Linked DNA regions of Homo sapiens: regions 2 and 3 are each linked to region 1. Evidence: fine-mapped expression QTL. A gene starts in region 1. Each other region holds a variant in brackets. All regions are shown on one strand. Distances are from middle to middle. Region 1 holds the start of PDE5A (phosphodiesterase 5A). Region 2 has its middle 41 kb from the start of PDE5A. Region 3 has its middle 41 kb from the start of LINC02502.

Evidence for each region. PIP is the estimated chance that this variant, and not a neighbour inherited with it, causes the effect.
Region 2: its variant is the best candidate, but not a certain one, in a credible set for the expression of PDE5A in whole blood (INTERVAL, PIP 0.80).
Region 3: its variant is the best candidate, but not a certain one, in a credible set for the expression of PDE5A in aorta (GTEx, PIP 0.79).

What each region holds. Positions count from the first base shown.
Region 1 is chr4:119,626,811-119,632,620 of GRCh38, reverse strand. PDE5A (phosphodiesterase 5A) reads left to right here and starts at 3,817. Exons shown (of 21, transcript NM_001083.4): 1 at 3,817-4,101. The coding sequence starts at 3,950. LOC107986192 (a long non-coding RNA gene) reads right to left here and starts at 4,831. Exons shown (of 1, transcript NR_165235.1): 1 at 1,866-4,831. RefSeq lists silencers at 3,484-3,883, 5,104-5,383 and an enhancer at 4,924-4,973.
Region 2 is chr4:119,667,143-119,672,978 of GRCh38, reverse strand. No RefSeq gene overlaps it. Among named protein-coding and RNA genes, the nearest start is that of PDE5A, 41 kb to the right of the region's middle. The variant A/C (reference allele first, on the strand shown) is at 2,215.
Region 3 is chr4:119,977,233-119,983,068 of GRCh38, reverse strand. No RefSeq gene overlaps it. Among named protein-coding and RNA genes, the nearest start is that of LINC02502, 41 kb to the right of the region's middle. The variant T/C (reference allele first, on the strand shown) is at 2,888.

The DNA.
Region 1 (5,810 bases):
ATTGCCTCTTTAAAGGCCCTATCTCCAAATACAATCACATTCTGTGGTACTAGGGGTTAGGGCTTCAACATATGAATCTGGGGAAACAAATCAGCCCATAAGACTAGTATACAGAGATACAATTGATTTTTGTATACTGACCATTTATGCTGCAAGCTTGCTGAATCACCTCTTAATTCTTGTAGTTGCTTTGTGCATTCCTTTGGGTATTCCTCATAGATACTCATGTCTGCAAATGGAGAATGTTTACTTTTTCATTTTTATGCCTTATATTTCTTTTTTGTGTTTTTGCTTTGTTGCATTTGTTTTTTCTATTTGTATGACCAAAATCTTTAGCAGTACAGGTAGGTAACAACCAAATAATGTAGAACCCCATAAGCCACGTTACAGAGTTTGAATTTTATTTTAGCACAGTGGGAATACATTGAAGGTCTTTAGTTAAGCTGTTGCTCATGAGCAACAAATGAGCAATGACATATATGTATGTATATACACATATATATCATTGATTTTATATATATATATATATATATCTTAGTCCACTTGTGTTGCAATAACAAAATACCACAGACTGGGTCATTTACAAAAATTAAATATATATATACATATACACACATATATATATCATACATATACACATACATACATCATTGCTCATTTGTTTGTTATAAATAGCATTAACAGCATTTTTCAAGTTATATCCTGGGAGTGTTTATGATTTACTTATTCTTCAACTAATTCCATAACAAGATTTGAGGTGCTTAGAACAATTCATGCCAAGTTAAAACAAAATAATTGGGCAAATTGGGATAAAGAATAAAATGGAGTTGAAAAACAAGAGGCCCAGGTAATGTCAGTTCAAAATATGCTTACCTTTAACTACTTTAAATTTACAGGAGGTATAGTTACACATTTTGGCTGAATCTCCCAGAGACTAGAACTGTTTGAGACACTTCTGTTCCCCAATCCCTTGTGATATGTTTCTCAGGTAATAGGCCTTCACAGTAACTCCCAAACTATCATATATACCACACAGACTTGAGATTCACTATTGAGAGAATCTATGTACTGTTTTTCTTTTTTTTTCTTTTTTGTTATAGAGCCGGGGGTCTTACACTGTCACTGAGGCTGAAGTGCAATGGCACGATCATGGCTCACTGCAGCCTTGACCTCCTGGGCTCAATCCTCTTGCCTCAGCCTCTCGAATAACTAGGATTACAGGTGTGTTCCCCCATGCCTGGCTAATTTTTAAAAATTTTGTGTAGAGATGGGGTCATGCCATGTGGCCCAGGCTGGTTCAAACTCCTGAGCTCAAGTATCCTTCTACCTCTCCCTCCCAAAGTTCTGAGATTACAGGAATGAGCCACTGTGCCCAGCCTATAGATTGTTTTTCTTGAAGCAATTTTTCAGAAACCTTCCTGGTTTCTGATAATTTAACCCTTTCAGGTTAGGAGAGAAAAATGAACATTTTGATATTACCCACTGTCTTAGTCCATTTGTGTTGCTGTAATAAAATATCACAGACTGGGATATTTATAAACAATAGAAATTAATTTCTCTCAGTTCTGGAGGCTGGAAACTCCAAAATCAAAGTGCCAGCAGATTTGGCAACTGGTGAGGGCTGCTCTTTGCTTACAAAATGGCACCTTGTTGCTGCATCCTCAGCAAGGGTCAGTGCTGTGTCTTCACATAGTGGAAAGAATAGAAGGGGCCAACTGTCTCCTTTGGGCCTTTTTTTAAAAAGGCACTAATGCATTCACAAAGGCAGAGCCCTAATGGTCTAATCACCACTTAAAGGCACCTCCTCTTAATACTGTTGAATTAGGGATTAAGTTTCAACATGAATTTTGGAGGGAATACAAACATTGAAATGATTATACGTGTTTATTTAATCAAGTATCCAACAAAAGCAAATAATTCAAGCCCCAAATTCACTGCATCTTTAGTAGATAAGCAGAGTTTTAAATTACGATTGATCTCCTGTTAGGAGGAATGCATGGATTTCCACAAGAAAAAACTGTACTGAGGAGAAACTTTCCACAGTAATGTGCCACTTTTCAGTCAACGACAGACCACATATATGAGTCCCATAAGATAATACTATATTTTTACTGTACCTTTTCTATGTTTAGATATGTTTAGACACACAAATATCATTGCATTACAATTGCCTACAGTATTCAGTACAGTAATATGCTGTATAGATTTGTGGTCTAGGAGCAATAGCCTAAGTGTGTAGTAGGCTGAGCCATCTATTTTGTGTTAGTACACTGTGATGTTCAGAGAAGGATGAAATTGCCTAAGGATACATTTCTCAGAATGTATCCTGTTGTTCGGTGACGCATGACTGTATTCCATGAGCACTATAATCACTATCATAGTAACACATTAGGAGAGAATTCTCATTTCTAAATCCAATATAATTTATCACCCATTAGTTCATACTCTACTGCTTTGATTGCTTTTCTTTGGTTGTGGCTACCTGCATACAGCAGTAAAGTTTCAGAAAAACTGAAGTCGCAAAAGGTCAATTACTCAATGAAGGAAAGATAAACCATTGCATTGGGGGACTAGAAGATACTTTTAAAAGTTCTCAGATTATCAATTTAATGATGTGTTTCTATGTAGTGAATAATGCCTTAAATTCTTGCCAAGAGTATTTAGAAGGAAGTTGTCAGAAGTATATCAGCTAACTCATTTTTTTTTATATCACTGCTAATGGTGTCATTCACACATTGTGCAACCCATAATTCCAGATTTAATTCTACCAAAAAATATAGGTCATTGCAAAATGCCATATTAAAACTGCCAATGCATGACAGGAAGATGGGGATGCAGACAAAGCAAAGGATGACACCAATTCCTTTTTTAAAGAAGCAAGATAGGGATTGGACAAAAAGGCTGAGCCATTTTTAATGGATACTTTTGAGGGAGTGTTAATTCCAATTTAATTAAAATGATGCATTAATTTAAAATTGGGATAACTGGTTGCCCTCGACTGCACCTGGGTTGCGCCAGTGCTCTCGGATTAACCTAATTGTACAGAGGTGCCCTTGTTTTCTAACTTCATGCACAAAGCATTGGAAATTATTTGTTTGCTTTTTCTTTTCCAAGTAAATCTTTTTCCAGTTATGCATAAGGGAAGTTTGAGGCAATGGTTAAAGGCACTTAAGTTATAATTATTGCTGTTATCATTAACATTAAGCACGGGTATGGCTTTGTTGCAAGTTACCCACCTACACCTGCAAATCTCTCTTGCTAGCACACGCCCCAGCTCTCTCCACCCGCAGTGGTCCGTGGCTGGACCGCTTTAAGTCACTGAGCGGGCTGGGCTCTGAAGGAGGTCGGTCCCGCTCCTCCCAGACCCAAGCGTAGGGCTAGGGAAAAGCTAGGCGGGAAGGTCATTGCACTCCCAGGCCCCAGGAAAAGGGCCCAGGGTCTCATCATCTCTTACTTTCGGGCAAAACTTCCCACATCGCGACCTTCCCTCCCTGGGGCACTCTGAGAACACACCCAGTCACCTAGCGCGCTCCCCAGAAGTCGGCTTGGCACACAGCGCACCCCAGCGGCCGCGCGGCCTCCTTCCAGCCGCCGCCACTTGGCTTCCGGAGAGCTCGCCGGGCGCTGCCGCTGCCGCCGCCGCCGCCGCCTCCTGGGAACCAGGGGACTGAAGAGCCTGCGAGAGCGGAACACTGCCGGACCCCGGGTGGGGGGGGCGCAGCAGCTGCGCCTGGCCCCGCCCACCACACCTGGGCGCCCGTAGAACCGCGCGGGGCGGGGCGGGGCAGGAGGCTGGCCTGGCGCTCCGGCCGCTTTGTCGAAAGCCGGCCCGACTGGAGCAGGACGAAGGGGGAGGGTCTCGAGGCCGAGTCCTGTTCTTCTGAGGGACGGACCCCAGCTGGGGTGGAAAAGCAGTACCAGAGAGCCTCCGAGGCGCGCGGTGCCAACCATGGAGCGGGCCGGCCCCAGCTTCGGGCAGCAGCGACAGCAGCAGCAGCCCCAGCAGCAGAAGCAGCAGCAGAGGGATCAGGACTCGGTCGAAGCATGGCTGGACGATCACTGGGACTTTACCTTCTCATACTTTGTTAGAAAAGCCACCAGGTAAGAAGAGGACCCACGGAAGACCCGGGGCTGATTTCTCTCCCCTGTTGAATTGTGCCCTTCGTTCACCCCTGTTCCCAGGCCCTTTGCTTTTGAAGTAGGTCCTCGGTCCTGTTACGAGGTAGAAACCTCAACTCTAAGCGAGCACAGTCGAAAAACTCAAGTGTCGGATTTGATACAACTTGCTCACAAAGTTCAAATACAAAAATGTACTTGCCGACCTCCCACCCTCACCCCCGACCCTCTTGGTATTCCCCGGGAACATGATTATTTTCATACATCCGTGCTCACGGGCCTTCCCCTAGCCCCTCTCTAGCCCTCTGGTTCCCCAAAATCCAATCAGCAAAACCCAAACAGTTTCTGAGCCCCTTCCCTGCAGCTCCGGAAGCACCATTTCCAAGTCGGTCTTGATGGCTCCGCTCCTCCCCCGTCCCCCCTCGCCCTGGCCCTGGCTGGGCGGGGAAGCTGGGGTGAGGGACGAGTCCACGGGACAGCCCAAAGGCAACATGACGGAACCTTGCCAAAGTGAGTGCGGTTGCCTTTTCCCCCCTTCCAGTCTCCTGCTTGTCCCGCGCGCCTCCTTTCACTCGCTTTTCCGCCGAAGGCTGTGCCGCCAAAAGTAGAGCTCTGCAGAGGGGTTTGCGGCGTGCACACAAAGGGCGCAGGGGAGGCGCCGCCTGGAGCGGACCCCAAGGGGCAGCGCAGACCCCAGAGGCCAGCTCTTTCTGGTCCAGAGCCAAGCGCCGGGGCGGCCCTTGCGGAGGGCGGGGAGGAGGGAGCCTGTCCTTTTGGAGGCGGCTGCGCAGCGGGCAGTCGGGGCGCTCGTGGGAAACGCTCGCGGGAGAGTTGGGGAGGAATTGAGACTGGGAGCAGAGGGACAAGAAGAGTGGAGCAGAGAGTGCTTGGCGGGCGGGTGCCCCGAAGCCTGAGGAATTGATGCATAGTCGGGGTGCGTGGACTCCAGGACGCGCCCCTTTGCAGAAAGAGTCCGTGCCCCGCTGCCGCCTGCTCTGGGCAGCGGCCGTCGGGCAGCGGGTGCTGGCCGTCTTGGCCGGGAGGGTGACACACGCCCGGCAGTGATGGTCGAGGAGCCCGCCCGGGTTCGACGCCCGGGTCCCACTCGCCGGCGCGCGGCCGCGGCTCTGCCGGTCGCTCCCCGCCAGGGGGCGGCGCAGCGCGGGGCGAGCGGGAGGCGACGGGCGGCGGCGCGGAGGCCGGGGCCGTGAGGGAGCTGGTTCTGAGTCGCCGACCTCACCTCACCTCACCTGCGCGCGTTGTTGCCCCTACGGAGCCTCCTGGAGTCCAGGATCGGCGGAGTTCGAAAACGAACTTCCCACGTTTGCTATGTTGCCCTTTGGAGACAAAACAAGGTACTTCCTTCAGCATCCCCCTACGTCCCTTCCCACTTTTTCCGGGGGCGCGGCGGGTCTCGGGTGCTGGGTGGTGGCGCCCCGGTGGCACCAGTGGGACGATGTATCATTGAAAATTGACTGTATAACTTTTGTTGTTGTTGTTATTCTTTGCTCTCTTGCAGATGTATTAATAAGGGTCTTAAATTGGGCCCTTTTTAATCTTGTTTTGTTTTGTTTTGTTTTGTTTTTTTCCTAAGGAACATCCAGAGTTGGTGTCAATTTAGTCACTTTCAGGGTTTTTTGACAGAGGGGAAGGCTCCGGGATTAATCTTTTCAATTTAATAACCCAGCCCTTCT
Region 2 (5,836 bases), 40 kb before region 1:
TGAAGAAATTCACACACATACACACACACACTATAGCTAATGAGTTCAGCACAGCTGCAGAACACAATACCAATATACAAAGATCAGTTGTAATGCTATAGACTAGCAATAAACAAACTAGAAATAAATGTGAGGAAACAATTCCATTGATAACAGCATTATAAAGACTAAAATACTTAGGAATAAACCTAACAAAAAAGTGCAACATGAGTACACTGAAAACTACAAAATTTCATTAAATCAATAAAGGCCTAAATAGAAAGACATTTTATGTTCCTGGATTGAAAGACTGAATGTGGTTAAGATGGCAATGCTCCCCAAATTGATCTAAAGATTCACTACAATCACTATCAAAATACCTGCTGACATTTTTTTGCAGAAATTGACAAGCTAATCTTTAAATTCAAAAGATCCAAAACAGGAAAGCCAAACTTGAAAAAAAACAAAACTAGAAAACTCACTCTTCCTGATTTCAAAACTTGCTACAAAACTACATTAATCAAGACAGTGTAAACAGGCAAAAGGATAGACATGTAAAGGAAGAGAACTGAGAATTTTCTCAGCAAATTAATAATAGAGATTCAAACCTAGACTAGACAACAAAATCCATGCTTTTCCCACTACCATGTAAGTTTTTTTGGTTACCACTGTTCTCTATATTCTGCACAACACTTAGCCTAGGGCCATGTACCAACCGATGAATGAATGGGCAGCGCTTCTGGTGATAATGACTAATCCCATAAGGCAGTAAATGGTACATAAAGAAGGATAATTTTATTTTTAAGTACAACCCACCAGTTACCCTGAAGCTAAAGAAAGAAATTAAAAGCTATCATTATCTATGTGCTGAATAAAAAAACACAGATGAAGATTCTATACTCTAACATCCTTCATCTTTTGGTAAAAATATGAGAATTGAAAAACTATCAGTCAGAAATATAGATACTATCAATCTTAAGACCAAAACCAAAATTAGATTAGCCCGGAGATACCACCTTATATTCTCACTTTGTCTGCCAGCATATCATGTTCAATGGGGTTAAGTATTTGCTAAATGGGAAGAATAGTGTGTATATACATATATTCGTCACACACACAGCTATACACACCCCTGGGAAGTCTTGAAGAGCACTGTAAATTTGAAGGTCTTTGGAAAATTTTAGTCTTGGAACAAGACAGTCCAGGATAGTTTAACATCATCATTAATTAATGTGCAACATGACAAACCTGCCTCCTCTGACACAGAAAATGAAATGTTTCCACAATCAAGCCTGAAGCTAACAGTGTTGGAGTACTAAATGGCTTTCTAACAAATTTAGACTTGACAGTTACTTTGTCTTTCTCTTGTCTTAGCAGATTCATGCTTAAGAAGGCCCCATATTCTCTGGCTATTCAGGGATTATAGGCCAACCTATCCATCTGCCAGGCAGCCATTCAGGATGGGTGTCCTGCATATCCAGCTGTAGGTTTATATCCATGTAATTATATACATGGGTATGTAATAAAGACAGAGGAAGGATGTCCAGAGGAGATTGTGGGTGAATGTTAGGCCAAACTTCTCAACTCCTCATTAGTCTCCTTTTATAGACTTGAGGGCTAACCACATGCAGTGGCACACTTTGATAAAAGTGAATCATAGAAATGGAAATAAATGCATTATCTGGCACACATTTTTGGCTCATTTCTTTAGACAATGAATATAAACAGTTGTCTTTTGTAAGGCAGTAATGTCTAACAGGTATTTTTAAAGAATTTCTATTTTATCTAATATTATGATATAAATTATATCATTTCCAGGTAAAACAAATAGCATTTGAATTGGTATTTCAATGTCACTGACTGTAAAATCAACAAGAAAAATGTGCTTCATTTTCTGGAGCCTAAATTTTCCCACTTACAAAAACAGCAACAATAAAAGTGTTTTCTCTATTTCTCCTGTTAGCGAGAAAACTATTGCACATATCATGCGAAATATCACTTTGATATGAATTTAGGCTTCAGCAATGTGGGCCTGGGCTAAAAGAGTACGGGACATTATAGGGTACCTTCTTGAGAGCCAGACTTTAAAAGCTAATCTGCCTTTCTACCCTTGTTTCTCCTCTGGTCTTGTTTTATTCAGCTCTTTTAACTTTATATATTACATATATATTTGTAAGATACGTACCCAAAGTCACTTTGGAATAAAGTGTGGGTATAAATAATCAAATGTTATTG[A/C]AATAATATCATCATTAATTGAGTTGTCTTGAGCTGGGTGATTATGGGGATGAGGAAACAAGGGAACAATAGAAAATCCTAGTTCACTGCTTAGGAGCACCAACTTGTTAACCACTTAAAATGCATAAATCACAAATAATAAGGCTCTTCTTAACATATGGGAGACATTTTTAAATTAAAAAATGCTGGAAGTGAGAATTAAGTATTTATTAATAGCCTATAAACTACATGCCATGTGCCAGACACTATTCTAGCTGCTGTATATGCATCAGTTCAGGTAATCCTTTTAGCAATTCTCTGTTCCGTTCTATTACTATCACCATTCTCATTTTACAGACAAGGAATTGAGGATCAGAGTGGTTAACTACCTTGCCTAGAGTCACACTGGTACAAAGTGGCAGCCAGGGTTTGAAGCCAAACAGGCTGGCTATGGGGTCTCTTATGCTATTCTGCAGCCTTACTTCTCCAAACAGCAGAAGACAGCTGTGTACACAGCTCTCTGATTCTCAACTCTGAAGGCTCAGTGGTATCATCTTGGGGAAAGGTGGAAGGTGGTTAAAAACACTTCTGAGCCCAGGCCCAACTCAGACATTATTGTCTAAATTTTTTAAAAGCCTCCCAGGTGATTCTGTTCTTGCACCCTGGGTTAAGAACCACTGAGATAAATAAAAAAATTGATTTCTGTTCATAAACTAAAGAGCAGCAATGACTTTAAAGGAATAGTCCATATTCTGAGCATGCTCTTCAAAATCTTTGGAATATAAAATGATTAACATAAAGGCAGTGTCATAGTAATAAAATGGCCAAGAGAATAATAAATCATGACCCAAAGAAACAAGCCGTGTACAGGCCCCGCGTTGGCACTCTGCTGAGTAGAAAAAGACACACCATTTGCCAGAGTAGGAAGTTATCATCTATAATCAAGAGAACATAGAAATAGCTCAGAGGTGAATGCAGACAGATCAAGCCATACCTCATTTACATCGTTCCATTAGTAGAAATGGAAATAAATACATTATAAGACAGCTACCCATCCAGCTAAAGTACTGCTGCATTTTCTGTTTTTACTACATGAAAAAAGAATGTCCTTTTTGTTTTTTTTTTTGTTTTTTGTTTTTTTTTCTTTGAGATGGGGTTTCACTCTTGTCACTGAGGCTGGAGTACAGTGGTGTGATCTCAGCTAACTGCAACTTCCGCCTCCCAGGTTCCAGGGATTCTCCTGCCTCAGCGTCTCGAGTAGTTGGGAATACAGGCATGCCACCATGCCTGGTTTAATTTTTGTATTTTTAGTAAAGATGGGGTTTCACCATGTTGGCCAGGCTGGTCTTGAACTCCTGACTTCAGGTGATCCACCTGCATTGGCCTCACAAAGTGCTGGGATTACAGGCGTGAGCCACCCTACCCAGACAAGTATATCCTTTTAAAACTACTTTTTGCAGTCAACATTATGCAAAATATCTTTAATGACTTTAATTTGTGATAGATGATTGCAGAGACTGAAGGTACTGAATTAATGTACTCTGTACTCAAAAACCAGACTTTATCTGGAGGAAAGAGCAAGGGAGTAAAGGAGCAAGAAAAAGACCCAGTAAAAGAGAAAGAAGCTGAACAAAGTATTAGCAAGTAATAAACCAACGTGTGTTTCCCCTAAGGGTTGTTGATTCCACATGGAGACAATTGACAATGTGCCTTCCATTGTCAACCTTCCCAATTATTTTAGTTCCTGGAGTTTTCCAAATGCACAGAGTTTAACAAATTTGAAATATGTAACTTATTCACTGAGCCTTTTATTGAATAGTTCATTCTTATCCACACTTCTAGATGCAAATGTGTTAGGTGCCAAATTCCTGGAAAAAAAGAGTTATCCTTTTCTCAATAATGGTTTACGTGCATCAAATTCTTTGTGGCAAAATGGGCATATAAAGAACTAAATTAAAAATGTATGTCCTTAAAGCCTGCCCCTGTTTCTTCCTGCTGTAATATCAAACTAATTTGCTTAATGAGGTGACTTAAGAAAGGGGTAGTTCCTTATATTTCATTACTAGATTCTTAACTTTAGGGAATAAGCTGCTATTTGTGTCCAGAAACTCATTCTTTCTCCTAATTTTATCATGACTACCATGTGGTAAAAAGCCCTCAACCTTATCTATCATTTTTCTTCCTTTCTCTTTGGGCTTTGCAGTTTTATAATTCAGAACTATGAACTAGCTCCTGGAGACTTGGGAGAACTAACTCCATATAAATTTGAATAAGCAACAGCAACAACATTCTGTAGAATTTTCAAAGAACCTTCATTTGTGAAGTATTATACTAAGTTGTTTGATGTTAAGGGAGAAATCTACAAAACAATAAGAAAAGTGATAACCAAAAAAAAAATTAATCATGATAATTTAGGCAGATACTAGGTTAGCAATTTCCCTGATAAGATACAAATGGTTGACAGAGGCAGGCTAAACAAATTAATACTCTAGATATAATTACAGAGCAAATAGTACTTAAAATGAATATTTTCTGGCATTTTGAAAGCATCTGCCCATCGACAAGGCATTCTTTCAGACAGAAGCCACAAGGGCTCATCTTTCTCCTTGAACTGCACTCTGTGGTGTCTGATTTGGCCAGGCAGGCCTCGTCTCCTTCACAAGGCTGGCAGGGCAATCATATGTGGAGTCAGCTTTGCACAGCTAGCTCTGCTTATAGCGGCTCCAAGGGCTTGATTTGGAGGCTTGGTTACAGCACGCTGCCACTTTAACCTCCAGCTCATCTGCTTTTTTTAATCTGACATTATCTGCCATTAACACAGTGGTCATTTCTTCAGCATTTGTGACTACTTTCTACTGCACAGAACTTAGAGAAGGGGTGATTCACTGACTCCTAACTTTCAATGGCCACATCAGGCAAGTTGCTTCACTTCCCTAAATTTTTCAGATATAAAATGAGACTGATCACTGCTGAAGTCCCCCACAGCTATTTCATTTACAACTTTTTTAGGTAACACATTTTTAAAAAGCCAGGTTCAACTGGTTATAATCAAAAGTAGCCATATGTGCATTTCCTTAAAAATACTATAATTGTGTCTAGGTCTTCAACAGAGGTTTGTCCAAATTTGTAACACTTTACATATAGAAATTAAAAATACAAAATAAATCCTCATCTATTTCTCTGTATTCCTTTGAGATAGTAAGTCAAGTGTTTTCATTCCTATTAAAGGAATTTTACAAACATCTTTATTATGTTCTTATCCCATTTGAAATATAAGTTTCTTCTGGAAAATTCAAAAGACAAAACAATGGTAGGAAAAGATATATGGATCCAACATGCATCCATGAAATAAATATTCCACAGCCCATTATCTTCAAAGCCAGATTGCTATGTCAAATATCTAGACAGCAAATGGTTGCAATGACATATTTTGCCTAAAAAGGAAAAGGATGGAAAAGAGAAGAGAGGAGAGTTCATCTTTTGAACATCTAGATGTGCTAAGTATTGTGTTAGAGACATTTATATATCTATTTAATATAAATCCTTGCAAAGGTTTTGTAATGTAGTTATTTTTATTCCCATTTTTATAGGGAAGTCAACTGAAGTTCAAAGAGATTGAATCCCTCGTTCCAGAATACACTGT
Region 3 (5,836 bases), 350 kb before region 1:
GTATTGGGCCTCCCAGAATGAATGTGAATTACAGCTCTATTATGTCTTTATAGTTAGCAAGTTTTAGGTTTCTTTCCAAAGTACACAAATGAGTTTTAATGATATTTGTAAATGGCTATAATTTAAGATCACAAGGTATTATCTTTGAGATAACATTAGAATTTGGCAGGAAAGAAAACTTTTATTTAGAAACTTGGCTTCTTGAACACAGAATTCTGCTGCTATAAGATTTCAAGTTAGACATTTAGTTGAAATGGAAAAAATAAATGTTGGAAAACTGGAAGTAGATGAGTTTGAAAGGACTATTCAGTGAGTGAATTTACAATTTAAACTGTTGTACACTTCTACACTTCATTTTGTTGGATTATAAAAATAAGTGAACAAAACGTCTTTTCTTATAACAATCACAGCAGACCTGTGTTAGAGTTTCTCCAGAGAAACAGAATCAATAGAATATACATGTACACACATATATGTATACACACTATACATACATATATATATAGTGGGAGAATGTGTGCACATGTCTGCGTATGTGTATATGTGTTTACATATGTACATACACATAGATGGAGATACATGTGTACATATCCATTATATATATCCATTATACATATATCCATTATACACACCTATAATCCATGCATTCTCAGAATTGTGTGTGTGTGTGTGTGTGTGTGTGTGTGTGTGTATATATGTATGTATGGAGAGAGAGAGAAAGAAAGAAAGGTTTATTGTAAGGAATAGGCTCACTAAATTGTAGGGGCTGAGAAGTACAAAATTTGTAAGGCAAGCTAGCAGGTTAGAAATTCAAGTAACAGTTGATCATGCAGTATGGAGTCCAAATTTCATGGACAGGTAAGAAACTCAGATAAGGTTTTATGTTCCAGTCTTCAGGCCAAATTTCTTCTTCTTTGGAAAACATGTATTTGCTCTTCAGGCCTTCACCTGATTGGATGAGGCCCATCCACATTATGGAGGTTAATATGCTTTACTTAATATCTACTAATTTAAATGTTAATTTCACCTAAAAATTATCTTCATGGCAACATCTAGATTAGTGTTTGCTAAAACAACTGGGCACTGTGGCCTGCCAAGTTGTCACATTAAATTTACCATCACAGTGTCTTATTGTTTGTTAGGCTCCTTTTTCTGACATCACCTTCTCAATCAGCTCTGCTCAGTTTCAGCTTACTCTGTGAAATAAAATGCAACATGATCTCAGACATTTGTTTAAGGGGTCTCCAATTTTCTGCAGAACTGAAATCCCTGATTTGTATTTTGGAGAACTCTCCAGATGAGAGCCATTTGGACCAAATCATAGAGTAAATTCTAGAGTAGCTTTGTTTGTCAAAGGTTTGGTGAATGAGGTAATGAGCGACAGAAGAGGATAATATTAACACAGATTTGTCATTAAATTGATGTTATTGTCGATGGAGTATCCCTTGTGTCATTATTGCTATTAGTAAATTTTCATGAAGTTCTTGAGGAGTCCATTGGTCAGATACATACATCAAGCCTGATAGAGTATGAGTAAGGGTAGATCTGGACCTGTCCAAATTCCTACCTCTGGAATCTCAGTGGTCCTCTTCACAGGTTTGTTTAGAGCAGAACTGAGGCTTTCAGCACTAAATTCAAGCTCTCAAAATGCCAACTGCCCATACAAATGTAAGTGGCTGCACAAAGTGAGCAATAAAAAAATGAAGTTAACCATTGCAACTCTTTATGAACCCTTGCATGCTGCTTGAGTTCTTTTAAAGCCATGATAGTAAAAAGTTTTATTGTAATAAAACTTACATTGTAGAGTTTATTGCAATGTTTAAAAAGCAGCACATGTGCATTTACATTTGATTCTCCTTTCAAATAACATTATGGGCAAAATATTGTTGTTTTACAGATATGAAACTGGGAGTTCAGAACTCAAATTTCACTTGCTAAAGAACAAATAGTAAATATTGGGGTCAGAACAAGAACTACATCATCTGGTCTGTTAAGCATTCATAATTGCTGTTCAGGAGAACAGAAAACATTATGTTTCTAAAGTAAATTATTGGCCAGTGGCACTGAACTACTTGTTTTAGAGGTAAAAGCTCTGACAGGAAAAAAAAAAAAAAAACCATATGAAATCACTTTGAAAGGCTTTATTGTAAGTTGCCAGAGAAAAAGTAAAATTTACATGAAACGATTTAAAATGTAACATTAAAAAAAACTGGAAGAAGAAAGAAATGTGTTTTTTCGTTATGATAATAAAGGAAGTAATTTTCTTTTGTGCCTGGTAATTATACTGAAAACATAACTGCAACTCAAATTTAACTGCATCTTTGAAGAAGGTTTCGGGGGTGAAAGACATGCATTTGTGGATTCTGAGGATCAGTTTGATCTTTCCTGCTGTACAGAGATCAAAAGATTCATTGTTATTTGAGAAAAGCAGGATTCAATTATGGCTGAGATGAAAGACAGTGAGAGCTGAGTAGCTGCCTTGGCAATAGTTGTTAATTGAGTATCCAACTACAGACTCTTCCAATTGATTCTTCAAAATCTTAATTCCAATAATTATGCCATTTAGACATCAGAAGAATGCTAACAAAGAAACAAAACTCAAAATCACTGCAAATGACTACAGTGGCTAAGTAATGAAGAAATTGAAAGAGAAGAACCATTTTCCTGGCCCTCCAAAATTAGTGTGTAATGCCCCAAATTAATTAATTTATCTTCCACAGGTCAAATAATAGGTCTTTGGCATCCCAGAACTTGTTTCTCTTTATGTAAATAAATCCATCCTTTGTCTCAGGTACAAAAGCAAATTATTCCATCTCAGTTATCCATTCTGTCATCACCTACACCCTGACCTCTGAGCCCTGACCATTAAGGGACTCTTTTCTGATAG[T/C]TGAATTCAGTGATAAGTTCCTACTTCTATACAGCCTGTAGAAGGTTCAGTTTAGTTCAGTTTAAAATGAGTGGCTTACTATTTCTTATATTGCAGGTTTTTAGAAGTTTTGTCAAAAAATATTTGTTCTGAGAAATTACCTAGTGAAATTAATCTGTGTACAAATAAAAATATGGGCAATTTTTTAATTATTAGTTTTTTTTCCAAAAGAATGTTAGCAGCTCGAATTATGTGAAAAAATTTTCTCAACTCTAAGTCAAACCCATCAAACACAATAAAACAGCTTCTAGAGATTAAACACACACACACACACACACACACACACACACAAAACCATGACAAAAGTAGGTGATAAACCTCTAACTGTATTTAATTTGCATGACATGAACAATTAAATGTTTTCTAAGAGAAGATCAGACATTCTACAGAAAATAACTTCAGAAGGAAGATCTTAAATTTCTTAATCCAGAAGCTTAATATTAGGGCCATGTATTTATATATGTTTTTAGCTGCCATTGTTACTTGCACTCACTGTTTGCACCTGCCTGACATAAATAAGCAAGCATATTCTTAATGCAGTCTTTTTTTTCCTGTGTACTAAATACCAATCATATAGGGGTGAGAGTCAGGATGGAAATGAGTATTTCTTGAATAGCAGTCACTTTCTTTCATATCGACTGGTTTTATTTACTTCAGAGCCTTTTATCACACCTGAAATGACTTTGCTTGTTTATTGAGATGTTCGTAGTTGATTTTTCCTCAAAAGAAGCTAAAAGCAGAACGCTTCTCAGTCAAGTGCTCCTCTGTACCATGAGTACCAAGGAGAGTGACTGGCATTTAGTAGGTCTTCATGTTTTTTAATAAATTCTAGGCACAGGACTAGACGCGGTGTGATTATTACCTCATAAATTCTCAAAGTGATCTTCAAATGTAAATATTATTATCCGTCTTTTATGATTAAGAATCAAGGCTTAAAGGAATTAAGTATCTTGCCAAAGATCAAACAGTTAAGAAGACATGATATAAACTCAGGTCTGATGTGTGTTCTGTTTGGAGGTCATGGGATAATGCATGCTTCCCAAAGTGGGCCATGGCTGTAAGCAATATTATAGATAGTAAGCAAAATGATATTAAGTAGCGCACATTAGATAATTTCAAAAGTTACACCCTTTAAAGCTTTCTTCCAATTAATCTAATTATGTGAAGGATAAAGTCTCATATTAATACCAGTGTGTATGTCATGTTTCTCTAATAATTTCTACTCTCTCTCTCTCTCCCCTCAGTTCAGTTAAGGGCAGGTAAGAATATAAAGCTAGAATTTTGTTTTCAGTGTATTAATTTTTACCAATACTTATTTAAGGCAAGATATCCACTTGCAAGTGTTCCACAATTCCATCATAGACAGCATTCTAGGTAAGGCCGTGAGTTTATTTAAAGAAAATATTACTCGATTAGATAATAGTGTAAGTGACATATTTGGCAAAAATTATGGAAGAGGTGTACAATGTCTAGTTTTAAAAATCCTTCTCTGAAGCAATTTACAAGGCTCTGGAAGAAAAACAAAAAATAGAAGGTATTGCTATGATAGAGAAACTCAGATATGTATCTCAAAACTATTTTAAACGTACTGTACTTCAGGTATAAAATTTAAAGACTACTAACCTCTCAGCGTAACTAGGATAAATACCACTGTGGCACAAAAACTAGGACTACAATTAGGTTACAGTCCTTACCTAATTGTTCTTATAATATAGTTGAGGAGATACATAAATAATCAGTATACAAATTAGGAAGCAAAAAATGTGTAAAAGAAAAAAACACATATGGGAATTTACGGTTCTATAAAATACTAATTACTTCCTGTTATTAAATTTATTAATTATAATAATTATATTATTTCTGTAATTATGAACTACAACATACAAATTATATACCTATATAAATGTTAAAAGTTATACATAATTATAATGAAAAATTTTGTCATGCATGCTCATAACAATAGTAAATATCCTTGCTGATTCTAATATATAAACATAGAAATGAGAACATGGAGCTGCAACCCTGTTTTGGATGGGTATACAATAGAGAAATAGTCACACTTGCAGAAGTGAGGAGTACCTTTTCTTATAGTTTCAAGAAAAGCCTTAAGGGGTTGGCAAATATGACCTGCTAAATTGCCAACCATTTAAAAATAATCAAATTCGTAACCCCAGTAAAGCTAACATATCTTTAATATGGCACAAAGTTAGAGCTTTACTAAGGGATGGTGCTGCCTGAGAAACTGTCATCACTTGGTATACTTTAGGGTAAACTTTTAACAATGGAGGGACTGGTTTTCCTCTTAAATTCTTTATGCTGACATCTGTTTATAGGGAGTATTAGAGTAAATTCATATGGTTCAAAGGCTTGGGTCTCATGTGGGGCCACTTGTCAGTCCCTCACTACTTTCCAGAGCCAACGTTTAAAGGCATAAATTTCCAAGGACATCTGGTGCTTTCTTAAGAAGGGGAGGATGTCTGTGTGGTCACGAGAACGTGGCTCCTAAAAGCACGAGCCCAAGGTTCAGATTCTGACTCTCATTTACTGGAGCAAGCTGCTTGATTTCTGTAAGACTCAATTTTTTTCAACTGTAAACTGTAGGAAAGAATAATGCTTACCTCAGGTTGTTTTGAAGATTAATTAAAATAAAGCAAGAGAATTGTCAGTGAATTGTCTGGGATGTAATAGGCCCTCAGTTAGCGTGACCTGCTATTGGCCTGTGTTATGAACTGCAATGTTCTCTTTTCGGGGCTTTTCCAGAGACCTCAGGTAACATGATCCCTTTAACTTTACAGTACTCTTTAGGGTTGGGACTCACTCCAGTGCTTCAGACCAGTTCCACACGTGTGAAATTTGGGCTCTTTCCTGAGCTGCTTCAAGCTTTTTTTTTTTTCTTAGCCGAGGGAAGTG